Linked DNA regions of Homo sapiens: all the other regions are linked to region 1. Evidence: fine-mapped expression QTL. A gene starts in region 1. Each other region holds a variant in brackets. All regions are shown on one strand. Distances are from middle to middle.

Evidence for each region. PIP is the estimated chance that this variant, and not a neighbour inherited with it, causes the effect.
Region 2: its variant is fine-mapped to the expression of TAS2R60 in whole blood (TOPMed, PIP above 0.99).
Region 3: its variant is fine-mapped to the expression of TAS2R60 in whole blood (TOPMed, PIP 0.98).
Region 4: its variant is fine-mapped to the expression of TAS2R60 in sun-exposed skin (GTEx, PIP above 0.99).
Region 5: its variant is fine-mapped to the expression of TAS2R60 in neutrophils (BLUEPRINT, PIP 0.95).

What each region holds. Positions count from the first base shown.
Region 1 is chr7:143,440,751-143,445,890 of GRCh38, forward strand. TAS2R60 (taste 2 receptor member 60) reads left to right here and starts at 2,703. Exons shown (of 1, transcript NM_177437.1): 1 at 2,703-3,659. The coding sequence starts at 2,703. The coding sequence ends at 3,659. All of the region lies in intron 2 of EPHA1-AS1 (EPHA1 antisense RNA 1), which reads left to right.
Region 2 is chr7:143,414,603-143,419,700 of GRCh38, forward strand. EPHA1-AS1 (EPHA1 antisense RNA 1) reads left to right here. Exons shown (of 5, transcript NR_033897.1): 2 at 466-597. Among named protein-coding and RNA genes, the nearest start is that of EPHA1, 8.3 kb to the left of the region's middle. The variant C/G (reference allele first, on the strand shown) is at 2,471.
Region 3 is chr7:143,405,768-143,410,767 of GRCh38, forward strand. EPHA1 (EPH receptor A1) reads right to left here and starts at 3,089. Exons shown (of 18, transcript NM_005232.5): 1 at 2,957-3,089; 2 at 1,844-1,911. The coding sequence starts at 3,038. It overlaps EPHA1-AS1 (EPHA1 antisense RNA 1), which reads left to right and starts at 2,046. Exons shown (of 5, transcript NR_033897.1): 1 at 2,046-2,119. RefSeq lists an enhancer at 3,161-3,773. The variant C/A (reference allele first, on the strand shown) is at 2,970.
Region 4 is chr7:143,493,639-143,498,778 of GRCh38, forward strand. All of the region lies in intron 2 of EPHA1-AS1 (EPHA1 antisense RNA 1), which reads left to right. LOC105375547 (a long non-coding RNA gene) reads left to right here. Exons shown (of 2, transcript XR_928075.3): 1 at 1-1,758; 2 at 2,328-3,134. Among named protein-coding and RNA genes, the nearest start is that of TAS2R41, 18 kb to the left of the region's middle. The variant G/T (reference allele first, on the strand shown) is at 2,328.
Region 5 is chr7:142,627,819-142,632,958 of GRCh38, forward strand. It overlaps TRB. Among named protein-coding and RNA genes, the nearest start is that of PRSS1, 120 kb to the right of the region's middle. RefSeq lists an enhancer at 4,735-5,029. The variant T/C (reference allele first, on the strand shown) is at 2,657.

The DNA.
Region 1 (5,140 bases):
TGTAGCTAAATGTATCTAATTGTTCTGGATATAATCATGTATCCCCCTCCTTTACTGATGCCTCATCTTTTTCCTTCCAACATGCAAGACAGCATCTTTATTGTCTCACAATTATGGGGCTGTTACTTCTCAACTCTTCTGAGAGATCTTGGGATGGGAATAGCAAGATCCCTAACACATAGAGCCACAGACTGGGAGTCACTTGTTGAGAGTACTGAGTTGAAGGTTTTCCATATAGAGAGCTAACTCAGGATCCCTATCCTACTACCCTCATGATTACATTTATAAAGACTGGTTATGAAAAGTTAAAAACTCTCAGACTTGACTTTTACCTAAGAAGATAAATCTAGACATGAGAAAGCCAAATGCAACAAACAAACAAACAAACAACAAACAACAAAAGAATCACCACGAAACACATTGCATATTTAAATTCAAATGATTATTCCCTCTTTTGGATTAACTTACTCTGCACATAGTATATGTCCAGTAAATGTTTGTGGTTTATGTTTAGCCCATAAAAGTGCTTTGAAGGCAGATATCTAATTCACTGTTGTAGCCCAATGTCTTTCAAAGGGTTATCATGGCATATAGGATATGCTTAATAAATTATTATTAAATGAATTGAAGGTTAAATGCACATCTTTATCATTGAAGGTGTGGGAGGTGGATGAAAAAGATTCAAGTTTTCCATATTGGGCGGTTTGTAGGTGGCCATACTCCAGAGCTATAAGCCCGAAGTTTGCCCCATTTCTCCAAGTTCCAGTAGAAAACAGCCAAATGTCAGCCAGAAGAACAAGGGCAAGGAAGAGAGCAGTTGGGAACTCTATCTCCTGGAAATTTGCATCTTCACAGAAAGGCAGAGTGAATTACCTTAGTTCATCTTATTTCCTTTACTCCGAAGACCTATGTCCACTATGGTTGGCGTATGTGTTAAAGAAACAATTCCACCTGGAAGTGGACTACTGGGAAGTAGACTGGGAACTGGGAAGAGATGCTGACATGCGTTCTATTCCCTTTTTGTGGGGGTCCTATATATGGAACTGGTAGGTTGTGGTGTCAGCAGATGTGTATTCATTACAAATCCCCTTACTGTCATGTTACTTGATCCTGAGCCTTCAATATTGCTGTATTTGACCCAGAACAATTCCTGCTTTCCTATCTCCCTGTGACACGTTAACCTACTTACACTCACCTGGGTGTTGATTGCTGATTTTTTTGACTCTTTGAAGCTGATTTCTATAAAGAATGTGGTCTTTTTTTTACTCTGTCCTTCTCTGGTTGATATCAGTGGTCTGACATTTGGTGCCCTGAACTTCTGTTGCATCCCTGATGCTCTCCTGAATTCTCCTTATGCTACTTATTATGCCACAGGATGGATGGAATAGAAGATAGCCATTCTAATAAAGTAATTGTCATCATCATCATTGCTCCTTGTCCATATGCAGAGGTTTATAATTTCCAATATATTTACCATATTTATGGTCATATTTATTTGTGACCCATATTTTTTATAGGTGAAGAAAGGGGGGTGTTCAGAGAGGTTAACTGCTTGAGGATCCGTAGTGATTGTGACAAGACTCAAAACTTGGGCTTCTGAGTTCAGCTAGGGATGAAGAAGATGGAGGTGTAACATGTATTGCTAACCATGGCAGAGATTCCTGGTCCTGGAATCAGTTTGGATCTTGGTCTTTCCTCTGTGTAACTGTGACTTTAGGTGGGAGTTGTAATATATAATTTGGGGTCTTATTTCTTTTATCTGTAAGATTATCTTTCATGTCTTCTTTCATTCTAAGCCGAGATTCTAAGACATCTTTGTGAATTAGAACATAGGATACTTTTCATATTTTACAGATGGACAAAATGAGGCGCAGAGGGGCTGACATATCCAGCAACTCACAGTAAGGGGTAAAGTTTGGACTAAAGGCTGTCTCGACTCCTAGCACAGGGCTCATTCTGCCATATCCCATTGGCTTATCGCTACTGGGGGTTCCTCTGTGAAGTGCTATTTTAGAGGCCACCAGTTATCAAATATATATTTTTAAATTTTGAAAAAAGTTGCCTGCCTCATTATGTATAATTGTCTCCAGTGTTCTTTTTTTATGATGATGGTCACTGTGAGTAATAAGACTTGAATTAATCCTTCTCTGTAAAGGTTTGCTCAGTTTTCTCTCTGTCTCAGTTAAAGGGGTCTTGCCATACTACTCCCCGCATAGAGTTGTTGTGAGAACTAAGGAGAGCACTCAGAACAATGCCTGCAACATAACAATCACCCCCCCCCCGTGGATGTGAGCGCTGTCTCAGTAGCGGGTGTGCCCCACGGATGATACTACTGAGCTGGCAGGTGCATGGTCCTGTCATAGGTGTCCGCTTAGAGAAGTATAACCTCCTGTGTAAGGACACTAAATGCCAGGGCCTGATATATTATCCACTTTGATGTTGACATGGGCAGAGAATAGGCAGAAGAGCAGGCAAATTTTTGGGCAGGTATGGGGACTTTGAAAATTGAGCCTTGACAATATTTGCATCTACTCTGAGAAGAAAAAACCTCTCACCCTCCTCTGATAGCCTGCGTCCTCTACTCTGGCCTAGCTTCTGCGCTTGGGGCAGCTGGAGGGACAAACATATCCTACAGGACCTTCCAGAGCAACCCAACAGAGATAGCCCTTGAAGTTTTGGGACCCATCTTGTCCACCAGAGAGATGAATGGAGACCACATGGTTCTAGGATCTTCGGTGACTGACAAGAAGGCCATCATCTTGGTTACCATTTTACTCCTTTTACGCCTGGTAGCAATAGCAGGCAATGGCTTCATCACTGCTGCTCTGGGCGTGGAGTGGGTGCTACGGAGAATGTTGTTGCCTTGTGATAAGTTATTGGTTAGCCTAGGGGCCTCTCGCTTCTGTCTGCAGTCAGTGGTAATGGGTAAGACCATTTATGTTTTCTTGCATCCGATGGCCTTCCCATACAACCCTGTACTGCAGTTTCTAGCTTTCCAGTGGGACTTCCTGAATGCTGCCACCTTATGGTCCTCTACCTGGCTCAGTGTCTTCTATTGTGTGAAAATTGCTACCTTCACCCACCCTGTCTTCTTCTGGCTAAAGCACAAGTTGTCTGGGTGGCTACCATGGATGCTCTTCAGCTCTGTAGGGCTCTCCAGCTTCACCACCATTCTATTTTTCATAGGCAACCACAGAATGTATCAGAACTATTTAAGGAACCATCTACAACCTTGGAATGTCACTGGCGATAGCATACGGAGCTACTGTGAGAAATTCTATCTCTTCCCTCTAAAAATGATTACTTGGACAATGCCCACTGCTGTCTTTTTCATTTGCATGATTTTGCTCATCACATCTCTGGGAAGACACAGGAAGAAGGCTCTCCTTACAACCTCAGGATTCCGAGAGCCCAGTGTGCAGGCACACATAAAGGCTCTGCTGGCTCTCCTCTCTTTTGCCATGCTCTTCATCTCATATTTCCTGTCACTGGTGTTCAGTGCTGCAGGTATTTTTCCACCTCTGGACTTTAAATTCTGGGTGTGGGAGTCAGTGATTTATCTGTGTGCAGCAGTTCACCCCATCATTCTGCTCTTCAGCAACTGCAGGCTGAGAGCTGTGCTGAAGAGTCGTCGTTCCTCAAGGTGTGGGACACCTTGAGCCACAGCTGATGAAAAACTTCAAGGAGATTCTTGTGGAGAAGGCATGGACTCAAAGGGACATAGCTTCTCTCTTTGCCACATTGAATGTTTTCTCTCTGTTGCTACAGTTAATGATTAGAAAAATAACTTCAATGAAATAGGATACAAGGTGAGAGTAAAGGTCCTGAAATATGGGCTAGTGTCATGTTATGTACTCACCAAGTGCATAGTTCATGTGGCCATGGTTCCTGTGGGACCTGATGTGGTCAAAGAATCCAGAAGCCTTTATTTTTCCTGTGATCGATCTCTTCGTATTTAAAATAATCATTCTGGGAACTGGATGCAAAGATCCTCAAACTTCATGCAATATTTTATCTGTTCAATCGAACTGGGGCATGTTTTTGGAACTGCAGTTTTCTCAGGCTTTGTCCTGTGAACCACCTTTCCCTTCTCATCAATTCAAAGTTTTCTGGCCATCTAATGTGGTGCCTCTCTCCTTCTTTCCATGGAAGAGTTTCTGGTGTCTAAACCTTCTACACAGAGCATAGTGTAATTGGTGCATGTGTGTGGCAGTGTGTGTTGCCAGGGATGTGTGTATTCTCCGATGACCTTTGGAGATCCCTCTGAGTGCCAGGGGTCTATGATTTGTATGTGGTTCATGTTCTCTATAATAGCCCAGCCTGTTAGTCTCCTCTGTATTTGTTAAGGTCTGTGGGTTCAGATGTAACTTCTTTTGATTGATATTGGGACCTATTGTAATTCCCCTACTGACATGGGGAAGTTTATCTGTATCTGTCTAAGACCTAAGATTTAAGAAGAAAAAGCCTTTGTGTTTGGTGAACCATGTTCAGACTGCCTTTCTGCTTTTCCCAGCTCCTCTCAAACGTTCTTTAAGTTCAGTTACTCCCTGAATCATTCAAACGAGACAACCCTCAAGTTTCCTCCATTCACTTTAAAATCTCTCCGCCTCCTTTCCTGGTTTTTACCTCCACCACACTCTACATTAGAGGACTGGTCTCTGTTTTTGGCTTTTCAAGGCTGACATCTGTGATCCTAGCCCTGCTCCTGCCTGTTTTCTCTCTGCTGCTAGGTCAAGGATTTCTACTTCTACACAAATCTTCCAACTTTCCCTCTTTATTGTCCTTCCCTTCTTCAACAAATGTGCCTCTAAACTTTTTTCCTGAAAACAATCCCCTTATCTGTCTCGCTCCTCCCCCTCCCTGTACCCCTGTGCTGCCAATGAGTCACTTGCAGGGTCTTCCCGTGTGCCTTCCAATCCTCTCCTGCTTCCCTGTTCTGCTGAAACATGTTTGTTTCTACAGGGACACACACGATCTCTTTGTCACTAAATGTGATATTGTCCCCAGCCCTTATCCTCCCATGTCTCTGTTGTATTTGCCTCTGTTGATAACAAATGATTTCCTTAAAATAAACTGATGAAAAATATTTTTACAAAAGTACTGCTGATCTTGGTGAAAGATTTTTTTAAAAGGGAAACTA
Region 2 (5,098 bases), 26 kb before region 1:
TCCTAACAACTTTTTAATTGATTAAAAGTATGCAGAGGCGGTCTGTAAGCAGTGCCACAGGTCCCAATTATACACCCTCCCCCTTAAACCCTGCATGTCCTCCCTTCTTCCAGTCAGTTTGCTAAGAGGAAGACACCCGATACTGTTTAGGAATCTGTCTTCTTGCTAGAAATAGAACTGTTTTGAGATAGAGGCGGTTGGAAGTTTTCTCTGAAGTGTCAAAAGCAAAGTTATATTTTAGAAGATTTTAATATTGTCACTTCATAGCCAAGTGATCTTGGGCAAATCACCTAGCTGTTTTGAGACTCCGCTTCCTCATCTGCAAAATGGGGGAAATGATGATAATGTTGTTGGTCATAGTATATGAGAAAAGTACAAATATGAGAAAGTGTACAAGCAAAAGCTTCTGGTGGCACCATGCAATTTAAGGATACATGTTTTTTATTTTTGTGTCCTCCTGTACAGGTTTATTTGCAAGATGGGTTTGAGGGAATTAAGGATAAAGTCTGCTGAAAGTAGCACCAGCCTCTGGATTAAAAGGGATGTTTGGATGAAGCTTCAATCTCAAGAAGAGGCAAGAGAAAACTAAAGAAAAAGGTAAGAGAGCCGGGTGTGGTGGCGGGCGCCTATAATCCCAGCTACTCAGGAGGCTGAGGCAGGAGAATTGCTTGAACCCAGGAGGCGGAGGTTGCAGTGAGCTGAGATTGTGCCACTGCACTCCAGCCTGGGCAACGAGCAAAACTCCATCTCAAAAAAAAAAAAAAAAGATGCTAAGAGAGATCACTTTCGACCCATTTACATTATGATGCAATATGAAAATAAAATAAATACCACTCTAACATTTTCAGGACATATGGCAATTCTCCCTGTGCTGATTTTTTTTAAATGTATCTCTGCAGTATTAACATCCTCTAAATCATTCTCTTTGTTTTAGAGACAAGAAGGTAGTTGACAAGCTGTGAACCTGCATTGCATTCTAGTGATGGGACACGTGGAAGGGGAAGCTGAAGTTGAAGGGTGGATGGTAGCAGCCACAGGGAGTGAGATGGGCTCGTTTCTGGAGCTGTTGGGAGAGAAAAAGGGAGTCAAACGGGAATTCACACAGGGTTGTGCATTATATCCAAGTGTGTATTCAGATACAAGCCTTTATCTCAATACCTTCCTTACCCCCATTCCGCACATATCTCATACCAAAGTACAAATAAAACCATTCCCAATTGTTCTAATATTTCATTTGATTTCTTGAGTCATGAAATGAAAATGTGGAGGGGTTAGTCATGTGAAGTGGCTGTGACTCAAATATCTTACGATGATATTTGTGCGCGTCTCATGAGAAATCATTGTGTTTCCACCTGAACTTGTTTGCTTGACTGCCTGAGAAGATAGTGTTGCTAACCTGAGAAGTTAATACGCTGCCTTAATGCTTGGGCTGGTAGAAGTGAGGGAGGGAAAGGAAGAGAACAAATGTGTCTCAGTGAACTGGGGCATGACAGAAATTTAATAAGAACAGGTTGAGACAAGTGTTAAATACTGGAATCCCCCGGGAGCACAGCGATAGCTTGGTCCTTGTCAAAAAGTGTACTGGTTGGAGCTCAGGAGGGAAAGAGAAAGTGATAAATCAGCCATGTCTTGAAGTCCATTTTAATTTAGCTAGCCTGCGAGAAGAGAGGGCTGAAATAAACTATCAGCTCTGTCTTCTGCATTAAGCAAGCATAATTTATTTGAAAAACATTCAGTTTTATTTCTAGCTAGGCTAGGAGTTCTTGTAACTTCTACAGAGGGTTGGGAAGAAGATCGGCATAACCCATGCTTACTATTTGAAGTTACTGGTTCTGTTGTCAGGAGGTAATATTATATTGTTGTCTTGTAAAAGAAGTATTTGATAAGTATGGGACCTCTTAATTGGGCACAGATTGGATTTCTTTTACATTTTGCTTTGAAGAAGTTATTTATAAAGGGATCGTAATAGGGTAATTTATATCTTTTTCTAACAAGTTCTAGTTTGAAAGTATTATAAATCTACTTACCCAGACACAGACACATTTGAACATATAGATAACAACCACCTCTGTTAAGAAATTAATGTACACATTTCCAAATCTATCCCTGAGTTTAGGCGATCCAGGCCATGGGTCATAAACTATGAGAGCCACCTAGTGGGAAAATTTGGTAATTGCACCTATATCTTCAAATTCTGGGTGTGAGAGCCACAGATAATTTCTGTTTATAAAATCTTAGAATACCATGGGAATATTTATCAACATGATATGAAAGTGACAGCGATTTTTATATATTCCTACTATTATAAAGATGGTAGGCCCTTAGGCTAGGAAGTAGCTTTCTTAACTTGACCTAGTCATCACAGTAATGATAGACTTTTGACCAGGTGAGGAAGGGAGGGTGGGGTGTGCCACCATGTTGCCTCACTTTTGGGCTTTCTGCTTTGGATACATATGAAAAAACCAGAAAC[C/G]AAGTCACCTAGGAGGCGCTGGCTGGGAAAAAAATGGTGCCCACTGTTTGTAGTGTGTCTGTTAGGTTGTAAGCTAGAGAGAGATGCTTACACTCTAACTTTTTTTTTTCTGAAGAGATGAGCTCTCACTATGTTGGCAGACTGGTCTTGAACTCCTGGCTTTAAGCAATCCTTTTTTTTTTTTTTTTTTGAGACGGAGTTTCACTCTTGTTGCCCAGGCTGAAGTGCAATGGCACCGTCTCGGCTCACCGAAACCTCCGCCTCCCAGGTTCAAGCAATTCTCCTGCCTCAGCCTCCCAAGTAGCTGGGATTACAGGCATGTGCCACCATGCCTGGCTACCTTTTTGTATTTTTAGTAGAGACAGGGTTTCTCTATGTTGGTCAGGCTGGTCTGGTCAGGCTGGTCTATGAACTGCCGACCTCAGGTGATCCGCCCGCCTCGGCCTCCCAAAGTGCTGGGATTACAGGTGTGAGCCACCGCACCTGGCTCTGATTAAGTCTTCTTACACTGAAGCTGCTGTGTTGTCTGAACAGAGCCTCAATTAAGAAGTGACTGAAGCTTTTCCCCTCCCTCCCTCTCTTCCTTTCTTCCTTCCTTTCTTCTTTGTTTCAACAGTTCTGGGGAAGTACTAAATATTAGACCAAAATTAAAACCTGATACCCACCGTACTGAGTGTTTGCTTAGAAAGTTCTTGTTTGTTTTTGAGAAGCACTAGGAGTTAATGGAATGGGTATTTAGTGGCCTTTGGATTCTGTAGACTCCTAGCTCTCTGCCTCCTATGTGTAAGGCCTTGGACATTTCTCTTAACCTCTCTGAGACTGAGCTTCTTCACATGCAAATGGACTCATTTACCTTCCAGGAGCACCTCTGTGGGAGGGGGATGCACCATGTGAAAGAGGTAAGCCCTAAGGTGGAGGCAGAAGCAAGTGGCCAAGGGAATACAGGAGGCTAATTTTGACAGGAACTGTATGGGAAAAGGTGGCCTTTGTGTTGAGCCTAGTAGAATGACTTCAATAGGCAGTTTTTATTCATTCATTCAACAAAAATTTATTGAGATCTTATTATGAGTCAGGCACTGTTCTAAGTGCTGGGGATATACCAGCAAACAACAAAATAGAAAAAAAAAAAAAAAACCCAAACCCCACCCTCCCTGAGTGTACATTCTAGGGGGAGGAGCCAGACAGTACATAAAAAAATAACAAAATGCATTCTTCAGATGGTGAGACACACTGGGAGAAAAATTAAAACAGGGTTAGGGGAATAGGAATCACATAAGGAGGGCTCTATTATACAGATATGGTAACTTTTGAGCAAAGAATTGAAGGAGGAAAAGAATGCGCTACAAAAGTCATCAGAGGGAAGAGCAATCCAGACCAAGGAAACAGCCCTAAAGTCCAGGGCAGGCATGCATGGGGTTCATGGAAGGACAGGGAGGCCAGAGCTTTAGGAGGGAGATGGTCATAGGGGTTGGATGGGGAGCAGCACACCTAAGGCCTCCCAGGCTATTTCACAGATTTTTGCTTTGACTTTGAGTGAGATGGAAGCCATTAGAGGGAGTCCAGTGAAAGGAGATGCATATTCTCTGACTTACCTTTGAAGAGATCAACCTGCCCAGCGTGCAGAACACAGATGGGGCAAGGCAGGGGAGGGCTGAGGGCAGAAGCATGGGTAGGTTAGGAGGCTGTTGTCTTGGTCTAAATAAGAGATGAGAGGGCTTGAAGCGGGGTTTCCAGGACTGTGCAGGGGCTGGGGAGAGTCAGCTGTGTGACAAATGTTTCAGGCCCACACAAGCATCAGCAGCTCGATGCCTGTACGAAATGGGAAAATGGCTTTTGTCCAAGGAATGGCGTGCAGGGTGGTGTGACTGGCTGAGTTGGGCTAAAGAGGGGGAACTGGGAGATGGGCTAAGGCTGGAGTCAGCCTCGGTGACCAACTACACTGAACTTTCTTTCTTTCTTTTTTTTTTTTTTTGAACTTTCTTCCCTATCTAACCTGGAACCAGTAAAATTTTGAATATGGGAGACACGTGCTCAGAGGAGCATTTTGGGCTCTGGTGGCTGAATGGGGGAAGAGCTGGAAGAGGCAGCGACTGGAATCAGAGAGATAATGATCCAGGGAAGAAACAGTAAGAGCTCAAACTTGGGCAATGAGTGGATAGAGGGAGGCGATGAGTGACATTTCACTTGTAGTATGACAGGGTATGTTGGCTGCTTAGATATAGAGGTGAGGGAAATTAACCAATAACCATATTCAGATTGGTAGTTATATTTTTGGTTCAAAAAAACCTTACCTCAGTGTGAAAGTAGGGGTGCTGGAAATAAATTTCTGACCTCTGGGAAAATGCTTTAGAGACAATGGTGACGAATTAGGATTTTGTTTGGCCGATGGGAGACTTTGAGTGATGGGGTTGGCAATGGAGACTGACAGGCAGGGAACCAGAAAAGCCTGGATGAGGATTGTTGAGAAAAGGTCAGGAAGCAGGCAGAGTCATTCAGATGCTCGGGAGGACAGCATTGGTTAAAAACGGCCAAGATACGGAAGGGGCATTTATGAAGATTTGCAGTGGGCTGTGGGATGGAATGCATCCTCCATCTCTGTCCCCCAGCAATGCCTTCTGTAAAAACGAT
Region 3 (5,000 bases), 35 kb before region 1:
TAGTCTATTAGCTCTAATTACAGGCTACTCTGTAGGAGAACAGAGAACGGAGCCAGGACTGTAGGACCCAGAGGGAAAGAAAGCAAGTAACCCTGACCCCAGAAACAGGGGCTGGATTGAAGTCTCAAGTACTGGGGTAAGGAAGGAAACCCTGAGAGAAGGGGTTCCAGAGCCAGAGTTGTAGATGCTCCAGTAACTTAGGCAGCCCCCTAAGTGGTTCTGTGACCAGCTGTGCTGCTGGCAGAAAGGGTGCTGTGAATTGTAAAATATATATTTGGTCTTTGTCCACATTTCCTGGCAAACAACCCCTAAAGCCCTCAAAATCCCTGAAGTGACAAATGTCTTTTTATATGCTAGTGAGCTGACTGCCGGGGATGGGAACTAGACTGGGGTGGGGGAGGCCTGGGTGGCAGAAGGCAACCTTGTGATTGGAGTTGGGACTTTCGGCCCCACCCCCAACTTCCAGGGAAGGTAGAGAGGTTGAAGGTTGAGCTGATAACCAGTGGGCAATGATCTAATTAATCACGCCTATGTAATGAAGTCTCCATAAAAGCCCAGAAGGATGGGGTTGGGAGGGCTTCTGGATGGCCATACATGATTAGGTCCCTGCAGGGTGGCTCGCCTCCTTCACATATACCTTGCCCCATGCAGCTATTCCATCTGGTGTTCATGGTACCATTTGTAATAACCGTTATAGTAAGCCAGTAAATCCAAGTCAATGTTTCCCTGAGTTCTGTGAGCCATCCTAGCAAACTAATTGAACCCGAGGAGGAGGGTCAGGTAAACCTGATTACAGCCGATGGAACAGAAGTATAGGTGACAACATGTTACTTGTGATTGTTGTCTAGAGGAGGGCAGTCTTGTGGGGCTGAGCCCTCAACCTGAGGCTATCTCCAGGTAGATAGTGTAAGAACTGAATAAGATTAGAGGACACTCAGCTACTGTCCACTGAAGAATCTGCCAGAGAGAACTGACTGCAGGCGGGAGGAATCCCTACACGCATTTTGGTGACCACAGGTCACCGAAGTGATTTGTGTTGAGAGTGCAGTAGGAAAAAACTGAGTTTGGTTTTTTGTACATCATAAGAGCTGCTCTCTGCATTTGAGTCTGAATATGCTCTCTCAGACCCACCTCACAACCTGTTCACTGAGTCTTAGGAACATCCAAGGAAGGAAGGGAACTGGAACAAGCTCTGACACTTTCAAACAGCTGGAATGCATGGTGTGCACGCAGTCAGCCTGAGGAGGTGTGGAGGATGAGCTAAGGGCTCAGAAACCTTTAGGGGAGCAGCTTTTAACTTCGGAGGAGTCAAAGACCCTTTGAAGAATTTGATGAAAGCTTTGGCTGGTCTCTCCAGAAAAAAAAATGCCCGCTTACATATACAGAATTTAGAGTACACTTTCATGGGGTTTCCCCACCCCCTGAAACCTATCAATGCAACTTCATTGGGATGAATGGATCTCAGATTGAGGATGCTTTTCTGCCTTTTCTATCCCTCCCCAAGCAAAGCACTGGTCTCAGCCTTCAACCATCCCCAGCATGGTGCATTCTCTCCCCGGGTATGTGAGCTCCTCTCCCCCTCACAAGTATCAGCTTGTATTCACAATATTCCCAAGTATTCACTGGAGGAGCCAGGCCATTCAAGCGTTCATCTTGAGGTGAAGTCTGACCCCCCCACCCCTTGTCCCATTGAGGAGGCTCTGACTCAGCCTCCTCTCCCCCTCCCTGAGGAGACACTTCCAGTTTTTCCTGCTCTTTTCTCTGTTCCTCCACCCACCTCTCCACCCCATTTCCCACTGGCCTTCAGGAGTTTTCCAAGATCCTTCCCTCTTCCGACACTTACCCCATCTTTTGGGGGATCCAGCAGCCAGCCCAGCTCTCCCTGTGCCTTGCTTGTGTCCATCAGAGTAACTGAAAGTGGGGAGAAAAGAAGTCTGTCACCTCTGGGGGAGGAGGTGCCCCTGCAGCCCACATTAATCATTCTGGGGCCTCAGCCCCAGGCTGCAACATCCTGTTCCTAAAAGCTGTGACTTCCTGAGGCTTAGGGGAGAAAAAGGGCTCAGGACTGAGGAGTGAAGAGCTCCAGGGATTTCACTCTTCTTTGTGTGTGTGAAGGAAGGCAGGTAGAGTGGGACAAGGGTTGGGGCGCTGGGTCTTTGACCAAAGTCAATGCAAGAAGAGCAGCCCCACGAGACGCTCAGTTACCCAGGCTGCTGCGTCCTGGGACACCCATCAGCTGCAGGATTGGAACGCGTGGAGGGCAGGAGGAGCTCACCTCTGCTAGCCAGGAGTGGGCAGGGTGGACCGGGGACCTCAGAAGGGGTTTCCTGGGTAGGGAGGCTCACCTCCACTGTCCGAAGCCTGCTTTGGCCTGACCTGGCCAGTGATCAGAGCCGTGAAGTGGGGATAAGAGGCACAGCTACCTGCCTGGGAAGTGGGGGGGAGTAAGGCCGGAGAGGGTGTTCCAACTTTCACATGGAATATTCGACTCGGACAACTGGGAACCCCTGTGGCGTCAGTCCTAACCCTTCTCCCGGAGGCAGCTCCCTCTGTCCCTGGCCTAGGTTGGCAGGAGGCGACTTCCCACCTTCAACTTCCAAGGGCTCAGATCTCTGGGGTGGGCACCTGAAGCTGGGACTGTCTGGGAATGCAGGCAGGGGTGCGGGTGCAGGTGCTACTTCCTGGCAAGGGTCCGGAATTCCCTCCCCACTCCCAGGAGCAGATTGCTGGCCTGCGGGAGTGGGGGTGACTGACCCGGGAGAGCAGCCGCTTGGGGTTAAAGACCAAAGATGGGCCTGGCCAGTCGATAGCCTGGCGGTCGGGCACAGCGAGAGAGCTGGCGAGGGTCTCGGGGAACATGGCCCCTAGGAATGCCGGCTTCTGCAGGGGGGTGCTGGCCGGGCCCCGGGAAGGGGCGGGGCGCGGGGGTTGGGGGCGCGGGGGCGGGGGTCGGTACCTTCCTTGGCGCG[C/A]GCCCCCGGGGGCAGCGGGGCGCAGAGCAGCAGCACCAGCCCTAGCCCCAGGGGCCAGCGCCGCTCCATAGCTCCGGGCCGGGACCTGGGACAGTGGCCCGGATGGCAGCGCCAGGTTGCAAGGGACTAGGAGAGCCGGGCGGGCCGGGCGGGGGCGGGGGGCGGGGCCAGCGCCGGGGGCGGAGTCCCGGCCTCACCTGGTTCACCTCCTTAAAGGGACAGTAGGGCAGGAAAGAAACTTGCTAGACTGGTAATCAAATTCAAGAACCGGAGGCGTCTTGACCCGAATGAGACTGCGGGCGCCGCCTAGTAGGTGGGATTAAGAATTGACGAACCTTTTCCCAATTCTAATCCTAAACTCAACCCAATCTTGATCCAGCTTTTAACCTAATTCTACCTCTGACTTGAATTACACTCCTATATTCCTCTTTCTGTCTTTGTGCAGGCCCCAGAGCTGGGTAATAGGGCCGGGGAAGGCAAGGGGTAAGAGTCATATCTTCACCCTCTAGCAGGGGAGGCTTAGATGACCACAATGCAAGGTGGGGTACAACCTGCAGTGAAGCATCTGGAGATTAGAAGAGGAAGCAAGCCCAGTCATCGGGGCACATTAGTTGAGTCTTCAGGGAGAGCTGGTGTGACCTGGGTTTTCAGTGGCAGAGATTGGGAAAGGCACCAGCAAGGGCCTGAAGGCAGGGAGCCTCAAGGTGCGCCCAGGGAGTGGTGAATGGACCAGTTTGACTGCTGGGGCGCAGGATTTGTCTTGGGAATCAGGGCAGAAAGGCAGGTGTGGGCCAGGGCTGGGTAAACAAGAAAAGGAGTTTGAACCTTGACATGCACTTACACAGCAGACATGAATATCTGGTTAAGGTTCCAGCCACAGGTGGCAGGGAAGGATATTTTAACCCATCTTAGTGGTGTCAAACCACGTGCCCTCTCACTTTCTTGCGGACTTCCTTATATTCTTTTTCTTTTTTGAGATGGAGTCTCGCTCTGTGGCCCAGGCTGCAGTGCAGTGGTGCAATCTTGGCTCACTGCAACCTCCGCCTCCCTGGTTCAAACGATCCTCCTGCCTCAGCCTCCCGAGTAACTGGGATCACAAGCGTCAAGCGTGCACCACCACACCCAGCTAATTTTTCTATTTTTAGTAGAGACGGGGTTTCACCATGTTGGCCAGCCTGGTGTCGAACTCCTGACCTTAGGTGATCCCTCCTGATCTCAAGTGATCTCCCTGCCTCTGCCTCCCAAAGTCCTGGAATTACAGGCCTGAGTTACTGCGCTCTGCCGAGACTTTCTTATATTCTATTTAGTAAATGTTTGTTCAGTTTCTGCTATGCATGCAGGAAGCTCTAGAAGCACCTAAGAACAGAAGGACAATGTCTTGCCCTATATAAGCTATTAATTTGGGGATGCTGGGGGTTGAGACATAAATAATTGCACAAATGATTGAAATGGCGGGCAGGAGTGGACCCCAGGCAAGGTACACACAGGGATCACAGTAGCTCAAAGGGGAGTGATGCATTTACTAAAGAGGCTGGGGGTCCACTCCTGGCCCCTCCTTCTTTCGCTCCATCCCATCTGGGTAAATTGTTCATAATTTTTCTATCATTTACATTGTTGCACATTTCGGTACTGTGAATGAAGGGAGGTGGTGGATTATAGGTGCTTTTTCTCATTTTCAAAATGTAATGCTTCTCAGGTTTTTTGTTTTTTTTTTTTGCTTTCTTATGCAGATACGTATATGACAAACACGGCCCATCAGTTCTTGGCTCAGACTATCCTTATTTGCATAAATAAATGTAATTCATGTACATTGGTTAGGAAATTCATGTTGAACATACAGAAACAAAATGGGAAGTAGAACCCTCTGCCCTCCAACACTCTAATTTCTGTTCCCCAAGTTAACCACCATCAACTGTTTCTTGTAAGTCCTCCCAGGATTGCTTCCTCGCTGTGTACACACCATCGTGTATTTTTCCCTCCCTCTCTCCCTCTACTCCCACACTTACATGCTTTTAAAATGTGTATACAGAG
Region 4 (5,140 bases), 53 kb after region 1:
GCTCCCTCCTCTACTAAGTTCCCTGTGGAATACATATTCTAAAAACATTTTATTTCAACTTTTAATTGTCCTTCTAGTTCCTAGCATAATGAGCCCTTCTGTAACTCTTTTATATCTTTTACTGCCCTTCAATGCTGTGGCATCACTGAGGACTTTTAGTAGAAGTTGGGATTCAGAAACATTTACTTTTCTGACCTGGTGAGAAGGGACTGAAAGTAATTGAGATAGGAAAGAGAAACTAAAATTTTAGAACCTGGTCTCCTTCCTAAAGGAAGAAAATGAAAGCACCTTCACCCCTCCTCCCACACACCTAGTTTTAGTGACAGTGACATCTAGTTTTAGAGTGGTGAGGACACATCGCACATTAGAATCATCACATCCATGGCCTGGGAGCCATTGAGAAGTCTCAAGTTCACAGTCATTAAAATAGTTCTGCAGGTTCTTTGATGGTCTCCCACATCACATTCCTGTTGTGTTTCCTTTGCATATTTTCATATTACTAGAAGTTTTTTCTTTATCAGCTTTCCTAATACTGATCTCCCGGTTCTTGGCCATCTTCCACAAAGTTTTAATTTCTTCACTGGAATTACTAGAAGGAGCAGAGGAAACAATGGGTCAGGATGAGGTTTTATTCCCAATATTTAACTATTTATTTCTATAGTAATAGAACATGAGTCTTTGGTAAAATGGGGAGAAAAAAGAGAGACATCAGTGTGTAACCCACTAAATTTTTTTTATAACAATTGGCCAATATTGCAAGATAAAGGTTTACTTACCTGGAAGATTTGTCATTGTAATGACAATGGACTAGGGAACTGTTGTTTAACTTCATGCTCTTCCCCTTTGGGCAAGACCTGAAGAATCTTGGGTTTATCTTTGCTGCTTCCACTGCCCAGGTAAGCTCAGGACCTCACAGGGCCTGAAGCTTTCCCCACCTCAAGGTCTGTGGATGGAGAAAACTGCTAGAACTTCTGACTGAGAGTTGTAGCCAAAGGTTAAGGAGGAGAGCAGCAGTAAAAAGAAAACCAAGGGCACCATGAGGGGGAAGAAGAAGAAAATGACATCTGAGAGGTGGGACCCCTGATGCACTTCAAAGGCAGACTCGGTATGAGCTGACACAGATGACTCCAGTGTAAAGGAAAAGAACTGTTGGGAACCATCCTCCACACTACCTCCTACTCTCATCTAATAAGAATGTTTCCCTGCTGGTAAAAAAGAAAAATGCATCCTTCTTACTTTTCCAAGCACTAAGGTTACAGAAAATATGTAACTAGATTTTTTTTTTTACAAAGTAGGTTAGAAAATAGTAGGAAATATAATATATATACAGTTGGATGTATATAAAGATTGAAAAGTAGAAAAAGAACAGGCAAGATGACCATAAAATGTCAGTGGGTTAATCTCTGGGTGATAGGATTATAGATATTTTTGTTTTCTTATTTTTAGCTTATCAATATTGATATGGCTTGAATTTGTGTCCCTGCCCAAATCTCATGTCAAACTGTAATCCCCAGTGTTGGAGGAGGGGCCTGGTGGGAGGTGATTGGATCATGGGAGCAGATTTCCCTCTTGTTGTTTTCCAATAGTGAGTTAAGTTCTCACAAGATCTGGTTATTTGAAAGTGTGTGGCACCTCCCCGCTGTCTCTCTTCCTCCTGCTCTGGCCGTGTAAGATGTGCCTGCTTCCACTTCGCCTTCCACCATGATTATAAGTTTCCTGAGGCCTCCTCTCCATGCTTCCTGAACAGTCTGTGGAACTGTGAGTCAATTAAACCTCTTTTCTTAATAAATTACCCAGTCTCAGGTAGTTCTTTATAACAATGAGAGAACAAACTGTTACAAATATTTTTAAATGTTTATAATAAACACATATTTTTTCTCTCATAGGAATCCAAATGAAATTTAAAAAATTCACATATCTGATATAGACGTATCGCATTGAGATAGTGATATTAGGAAATGAATTTGCTGTCTTAATGCCTGGCACTACTGAATAGCCTTTGGGCAACATAAGTGAGCATTCAAGGAAAGATACAATTAAAACTGTATCTCAGCAAAGTAGATATAACTATAGGTTTTCGACTATTTATACCATAAAAAATAAATCTGGAAATATTCTATGGTGGCAAACACCCTGGACTAGAGGCAGGACAATGGGTTTTACTCCGGCTTTGGTACAAATTGCTCTATGACTTTTGACAAGTCACCTAATCTCCCTGGGTCTTAGTTTCTTTGTTTGTGAAACCAAATGGTGGAATTGGACCTCAAGGTCCTGCAGAAGTCTGTGTTTTTCAGTGTGTGCATTACAACATTTTCCTTTCATTCTAG[G/T]TACTAGATTCTGAGGTCTGAGACTAAAGTCATTCCATCATGAGTTCCAAACTGGACTTGAGAGGGGAAGAATCATTTCCTTTGAGATTGACCAATACCAGGAGTTTCACTAAAGAAGGCAATGAAAGACCCACAGCCTTGGACATAATTGATTTCCTGTGATATCTGTGTGGGCCCAGGCATGCTGCTCACCTGGGTCTTTCCCCTCTTTCACTCCTTTGGAACTGCCCCACCACTAACCACTTTCCTACTCTCTCCTTCCCCACCCCAGTATCTCCTTGCCTCAAGAGTTTCCTGTTACTAGCAATAATTTAGTTCACTCCCAGGGAACTACTATTTCTGGTTCTCAGTTACTAACCTTTCCATTCAGTTCTTTCCATTCCATTTTTACCAGAATTAACGTTTCCTCATCTTTCCCAGTGAATGTAAAAGGTACCTTCTGGGAAGCATTTTACCGGAACTGATGACTGCTATGCTTGACAGCAGCTTCAACAGCCTCGGATACAACTCATCATGAATTAGCTCTGGCATGACTGAGTTAGAATACTGTTCTGTTTCCTATCTCTACATGTAGGAAAAATTTAAAGTGGCATTTCTATGCTTTGGTCTTTTCTCATAAATGACTTAGGGGAAAACACTTAATGAGGATGAGTAACTAAAATTCAATGAATACTAAAAGCTTTATAAGAATCATCTAATTGAAACTTTACATAATTTCCTTATTATGTATTAACATTGAACGGGCATTATGCATTCCATTTCTAGAAAAGAAGTCTTTCCTTAATAAATTACAAGTGCAAACATGAAGTCCAGGACAATTTTTACTTCAAGATCAACTTGTCTATATGCTAGGATAATGAATTTGAATACTCTTTACTGATGTTCCCTGAAGACGTAGCTATTTTGTTTTCTATAATGATATTATTTTCTTGAGTCTCCATTCTGTTGGGTACTGTAGAAAGAAGACAAAAAGCAAACAATATAATATACCAATTAAAGGTATCTTAGTTTTTTTACAGTATAAATGGTCTCTGTTAACTTAAAATGATCTTTCCAGGTAAATATTTAATTAATTTGAAGTTCTACCTTATATCAGAGTGGTATATTTCTTTTTCTTCCTTATCAACAGGGCTTCTGGGCATAAGACAAAACCTGATAGTACTGACTTGTGGGGCTTTGAATGGATATGTAGAATCACTCTTGTTTTGTGCTGGTCCTGGTGCTGGCTTCTGCAGCTGGACAACCACTCGAATCTTTGCTTATTCACGTGGCAGGTTTCTGTTGAGACATAGTTTATGTGGATCCAACCTGTGTCATCCACTGTTGGAGGCTGTGGCCAAGGAACCCATGGACTGTTTGTTGTCTTGGCTTTGTCAAGGCTTGGTGGCCATCTTCTTGTTGAAATGGTCCCACTTCTGGTTTTCCAATGCTGTGATTCCCCCAAACACACACACATCACCTCCCAGACATGACTGATTTCTTCTGGAGCCCTGAGTTGGGAAGTCCATTCTGTAGCTCTCAGTGATATGGCCACATTTTCTCCACCAAGCTGATCCCCTCTGGCATGTTCTTTGGTTGAGCTCCCAGCTGCTTCCTGTATCTGCACCTCCCATTCGAGACAAACAGGAACTTGAGGCATGAATTCCATATTCTAGGGAGCCAGGAGCATGCTCAGATTGGCTTGCCTGCCATCCTCTTTCACTGCTGCTTTTCTATCGTCCCTCAACATCTTTGGAGTTTCTAGGTCACCCTGAACAACAGTCTCTTGGTAGGGCTCTAAATGGGGATCAGGAAAGTATTTCCACCTTTGGCCTCTTCTTATCCTATCTCTTCATCCTCAGGGCCTCAGTCCCTTGGAGGGCTGTTTAGAACACATATATTTGAATGTCTGCTTCTTCTACCTTTCTCTTCCTTTATTTATTCCCAAGTCTGTGTCAGAAAGAGAAGGTTTTGCCCTCTCATGAAATGGAAGATTTCCCTTATGTCATATCCTGAGTTCCCTAGTTTATCAAAATCTCAGTGTTCAAATCCAAAGGTTGTGGGTTTTGATGTAGGTGCCTCAGGGCTTCAGAAATTTGGAATTAATAAAGAAAATATAGATTGATCTGTTTTTCTCTAAGTGTTATCCTTGTGCCTGCAATTCTCCATATGGTGTCCATCTTGGACAGAGAATTGGGCATCTCTTCTCTTCATTATTCAGCTCGTCCTGCTGAAACGCAGCCAGGACAGGGCACACCGCAGCACCAAGCAGCTACAAGGTAATCAGATTCTGAGCACTAAACCCAAGGCACATGGAATATTTTCCTTTTCTTTTTCTTATTTTATTTTATTTTATTTTATTTTATTTTATTTTATTTTTTTGAGATAGAGTCTTACTCTGTCAACCAGGCTGGAATGCAGTGATACAATATTGGCTCACTGCAGCCTCCACCTCCTGGGTTCAAGTGATTTTCCTGCCTCAGCCTCCAAGTAGTTGGGACTACAGGCACCCGCCACCATGCCTGGATAATTTGTGTATATTTGGTAGAGATGGGGTTTCATCATGTTGGCCATGCTGGTCTTGAACTCCTGACCTCAGGTGATCGGCCCACCTTGGCCTCCCAAAGTGCTAGGATTACAGGCTTGAGCCACCGCACCTGGCCGATGTGGAATATTTTTCTAAAGCAGCCTATTTGATTCTTTTTGAAAGGCCCTTCTCAGTTTCCCCAGCCTGATACGGGCTCGGCTGTAAAGATGGGACAGAATCTGTGTCATGTCTCAGGAGTGAGGAAAAGAAAATGTTATTCTGTCACATTCAGAACAGTTCTACAAGG
Region 5 (5,140 bases), 810 kb before region 1:
TCAGCGATTGGCTTTCTTGTCATCATGCTGGGCTCTCAAGACAAAGATAACCAAGAGGCAGCCAAGTAGAGAGTTATGCATGAATACGTTACCTTAGGGGAGGATAGCAACAGCATTGAATAGCATTCACTCCAAATTTGTGTTCTGTCCTCCTTAGACCAGGCCACCAAAATAAAATCCTATCACATTTCCTGTAAATGTTGAACGCCATCATGTTCTCCATGGTGTTTCGGTTGATGAATGAACAGAGTAAGACTCGGTACAAAGGGAGGGGAGCACCCTCTATGCCTAGGTACACACCATACGGAATGTATCGCTAGGGAAGGTGCTGGTGAGCTGGCTCCTGGGAAAGGTGTCAAGGGGAAGAGGGGGCAGAGGTACCTAGAAGGAAGACCTCAGACAACATGGCTTGTCTACAGAGTTGGAAAGTTCTGCCAGTAGTTAGAAGACAGTAAGTGGAACAGTGAAAATCCTTTCCTAGGAGAAACCAAACATTTACATTGACCACAAATCTGTATGAACCAACAGAAAATGAGCAAAACATATGACCATACATTTAATAGAATAAACATATATGACTAATAAACATATAGAGATATTTCACTTCATTGATGATCAGGATAATATGAAGCAAGACACAATGATACATAGTTTTATATCCACTTGATTAGCAAAATATAAAAAGTTTAGAAATATAAAATGTTAGCGAGGGTATGGATTCATAGGATTACTTATAAATTACTGATGGGAGCATAAGTACTATCAACCATTTGGAAACAGTTCAGCATTATCTCGTAGTTGAAGATTCCTATATCCCATAACTCAGCAATTCCACTCCTAGGTTTACATCAGGAGAAGCTCTTGCATACACATATCAGAAGACATAAATAAAAAAGTGTTCTTCACAGCACCAAACAGTAGAAAAACATGGCACCAAGCCACATATGCACTGAGAAGAGTGAATGAATAAACTGTGACATATTCATATGAGTCAAAATGAATGAACTATAGTGAAGAGCAAGGTTATAGGTGAATCTTAGCAATATAATAGCAAATGTAAAAACTAAGTCTAATGAGATTATGCAAAGCATAATGTGCTTTTCATAAAGCTAAAAACAAGTCAAGAAAATAATTTTCAGGACTAAAATATATTAGAACAAATTATATTGAAAGGAAAGCAAAGATGAGTTGTATGCTGGAGCCTACTTTATCAGCTCATGGGAGCTGACTGTATACATTTTTCCCAACTCCAGTTTTAGTGACATCATTTTGTTAGCTTGAAATTGGCCATAGTGAGGGTATTTACACTACAGAAATTAGCAAACACAGCAAATTACGGTTTGCTTTATTTTCCTCCAGACTTAGCTGTCAACCCTTTACCCTTTACCAACACACTACTGGCAGGGAATAATAATGACCCAAGTTCAGGATTTTTATAAGGCTGGGGCATGGCAGGAAATAGAATGAGAGAGAACTATATGGCTATACATTGAAATATTATCAAGGTCTATCTTGCATAATGTTGAGGAGGAGAAGTTTTACAAGTTCCTATTATGTTTTTTAAAAATATTCATTGACAAGCAATGCCTGTGTGTTATGAACCACAGGTTAAGATAAATAAAATTGAATGCATATAGCATCAAAAAGAAGAGAAAACAAATAAATGAATAGATTAGAGTTCTTACAAGAAAAGGATCAAGGGCATTTTATAGTCAAAACCAGGAGTGAAATAGCAGTGGCTTAACTGCTACCATCCTCATATAGATATCGGCTGCTGAATTAATCACAGCGGACAACCTACCACCCAACAGACCTGGACCCTTGTCAACCCTTTGCAACACAGAACAGGGGTTTAGACAATAAGGGTGAACGTGAAAGCGTGGAGATGACACCTGGCCCCTGACCAAGGTGGAACTGACTGGAACAAGATGGGAGCCAATTCTGCAGTGAACACGCTGCTGCTTTTCGTCTCCGCTATGACCGTGTGTTGCTGGTGGTTAAATACCCCACCTGGGTTCAGTCACCTCAGACTGTGCCATTGCCACTGATCTCAGGACCCACTTTAGTTGTAGCCTTTTACTCTGTTAGCGTTTTCAGCCTGGAGAACAGAGCTAGTAAAATACTTATAAAATATTCCACTGCTTCACTAACGGCATGGAAAAGACAAGAGCTTTTAAGGCTCTGGCATGAAACAGGGAGACAGTGGTTACATTCCTATTTCACGCAGTCACTATTTCCGTCTACGTTAAGCTGAGGAGTGTAGTGTTTCGGTGACATTTAGCATGGAACGCTGCTGGGTTCAGACCTGACATTCCCAAACCAGCTGACTGTCAAGGACACAGCCTACTGCCTACCTATATTACCTTAGGAAACGAGACAACAGCATTGAACAGCATTCAGTCCATATTTGTGTTCTGTCTTCCTTGGACAAGTACCAACAAAATAAAATCCTATCACATTTCCTGTAAATTTTGAATGACATAAATTTTTGATTAGCAATTCTTTTTGAAGTGTTGAACTTTTTGTTCTGATTTTATATTCTACTCTCTGTGCTTTGTTGTATTTAAAATCAAGTTCACCTTTCAGAGGCAGTGATGGGTGAGGTAAGAGACAGACTCTTACATCCTCCTCCCCAACACACACACACACACACACA[T/C]ACACACACACACACACACACACACGGAGGCACTGTTTTTCCCAGTAATGGAGAAGCCATGGGAAGAATTTCAGAGGTTTCAAGGGAGCTAGGGTCGTCTAATTCCTCTATATCCTTGGATATCCCCATTCTTAATGTCAAAAATAATCTCTCGAACTGGTTTCCCAGAGTCTCAACCCATTTGCTATAGTACATGCACCATCTCAGGTGTCCAAAGATGAATATTTGATAAGCTACTTCTCAACTTCATACCTCTGCTGCTGTTTTTCCATTCTGGAATGTGGAAAGCAGTGTGACTCCTATTAACTGACCAGTAGTCAATTTTAACTACCCATAAATATGTGAGTGTCTTTTATCTGTAATCTCCTATCTGGTGCCATTTTTGAAAACCAGTTAAGACTCTTTTATCCTAAAAAATGAACTATGTCTAATTTCTTGAAAGTAATTATTGATGAAATACTCCCTGGAGAGTCTGAAGCCCCTGATATTGCATATTTAATTGTTATCCTCCTTTTAATAAAAGGTATAGGAAGAAATTTTAAATATTATTCCTAAATACCTTACATCAAGATGAGCTAGAGTTAATTAAGTGGGACGAGGGATAATGAATTCAAGGGCATTTAAGAAAGATTAAAGAACCAGTGCAAAATGTTTTAATCAGGAAAGAAATTAGTGTGTTTAATGACAGGAAAGAAGTCAGCAGAGTGACAGGAGCAGGGGGAGGAGGTGGTTGAGTACAGGGCAAAATTGAAGAAGGCAGGAAGGCACCAGACCACTCAGAACCTTACTGGTCAAGGTAAATGATACAGAATCCAACATAAAGCTTAATAGGAGACACTGAGGTTTTCAACATTTGACTTCTTTAGTAATCAGATTCGTGGCTGTGTGTGTATCTGTGTATTTAATCACCCTGGTCACAAAGTGAAGAAATAATGGACCATGCAGGGAAGGCAAAATGTTACCTCTACCCTCTTGCAGTTTTTCGGCTGGTCCTGAGAATGGAAGATTAACAGGAAGGAAAGCATACACATGTATTTAATACAAGTTTTACATCACATGAAAGCCCCCATAATTAAAGGAAGAACTGAATGTGCAGTTAGAGTTGAACATTCATATATTGAATTGGGCAAAGGGTCATACATTGTGGAAAGGTGAAAAAGTAAAGGGGCTTAGGCTAGGGTTGCTGGTTGAATGGCAAAGTGACTAGGAAGGTGAGGATTAGTTTAACAAGCTTTTTTTGTTACAGATTCCTTGGCCTCAACATCATCCCATTCTATCTTGGATGTTAAGAATATTCTTTTTTCCTGGTATAGATAAGACATCTTTTATATGGGAAGCTTATTCCATTTTTCAAGAAGAAAAGGGGAAGGGTCAGAGTACTCCTCTTATACTTGCTATTGTCTTTAATGCCTCTAGCTCAAAATATTCCTTATGCCAAAGTGGCATATTTTGGGCAGAGGGTTGGGAGGCTTATGCTGCCACCCTCCAGCAGTGTGAACAGAGTTGATGCGGAGGAAAAACTTAGCTCAGGCAAGCAGTAGTTTAGCTCAGATAATGATGATGGTGTTAGAAATATGGGGAAAATGAGACATTTAAAAGGAAGTAAATCAAAGGACTTGGCAATTGATTAGACATGAGCAGCAATATGCAGGGGGTGGTGGGTGGTGATTAAGAGAGACTGCTACACACAGACAAATAAGAAGGACCAAGTGGGAAGAAGATCAAGATTTACTTTGAGATTGGGAGTGCCTTAGGGACAGTAATCTAACCAGGAATATGCAGAGAGCAGTTGGATGTACAAGTCATGGACTCAGAAAATGGATCTGGATAAGAAGCACACCTTTGGGACATTTAGCATCACTGGAAGAATGAAAGTGCCTCCAATCCCTTGATATACAGTTTACAATGAAAAGATCAGAGAGCATAGGATAGCGGTTTAGGGAGCACACCTGCCTTGGGGGACTATAAAAGGTTGAGGGAGGCAAAATGCACTGATAAACCACCATCGGCATTAGACTAATGGCTGAATAATTGTGTAAGTAATTGCTAGTAACAATGCTGTGGAGTATGTGGCAGGTAGCACATCAAGTGCTGCTTTTTTCTTAATTTCGCTCTGATACCTGGAATGCCTTTTTGCTGCCTCGCTGCCGGGCGGGCCACTCCCGACTCAGGCAGGCCGAGGCAGAGCTCCGCGGGCATTGGATGAATTCGCTCCTTTGACCACTAGAGGGTGATGTGGATCTTTCTATAAAATATCTGCCGCTCATCAAGTGGGGACTCACAGCTTCACCGGATATTTCAGATGAGATGTTTAGGTACTGACTGACCAAAAAAATTGCAGATATCCTGGGAGGCCAATTGGTCTTTAAAATGGCAGGATCTAATCTTAACATTTTGTAATAACCCTTAGCGTTTACCCATATCTGGCACCTGTAGTTGTGTGATTTCTACACAGTTGATAAATATATAAATGAATAATACCGT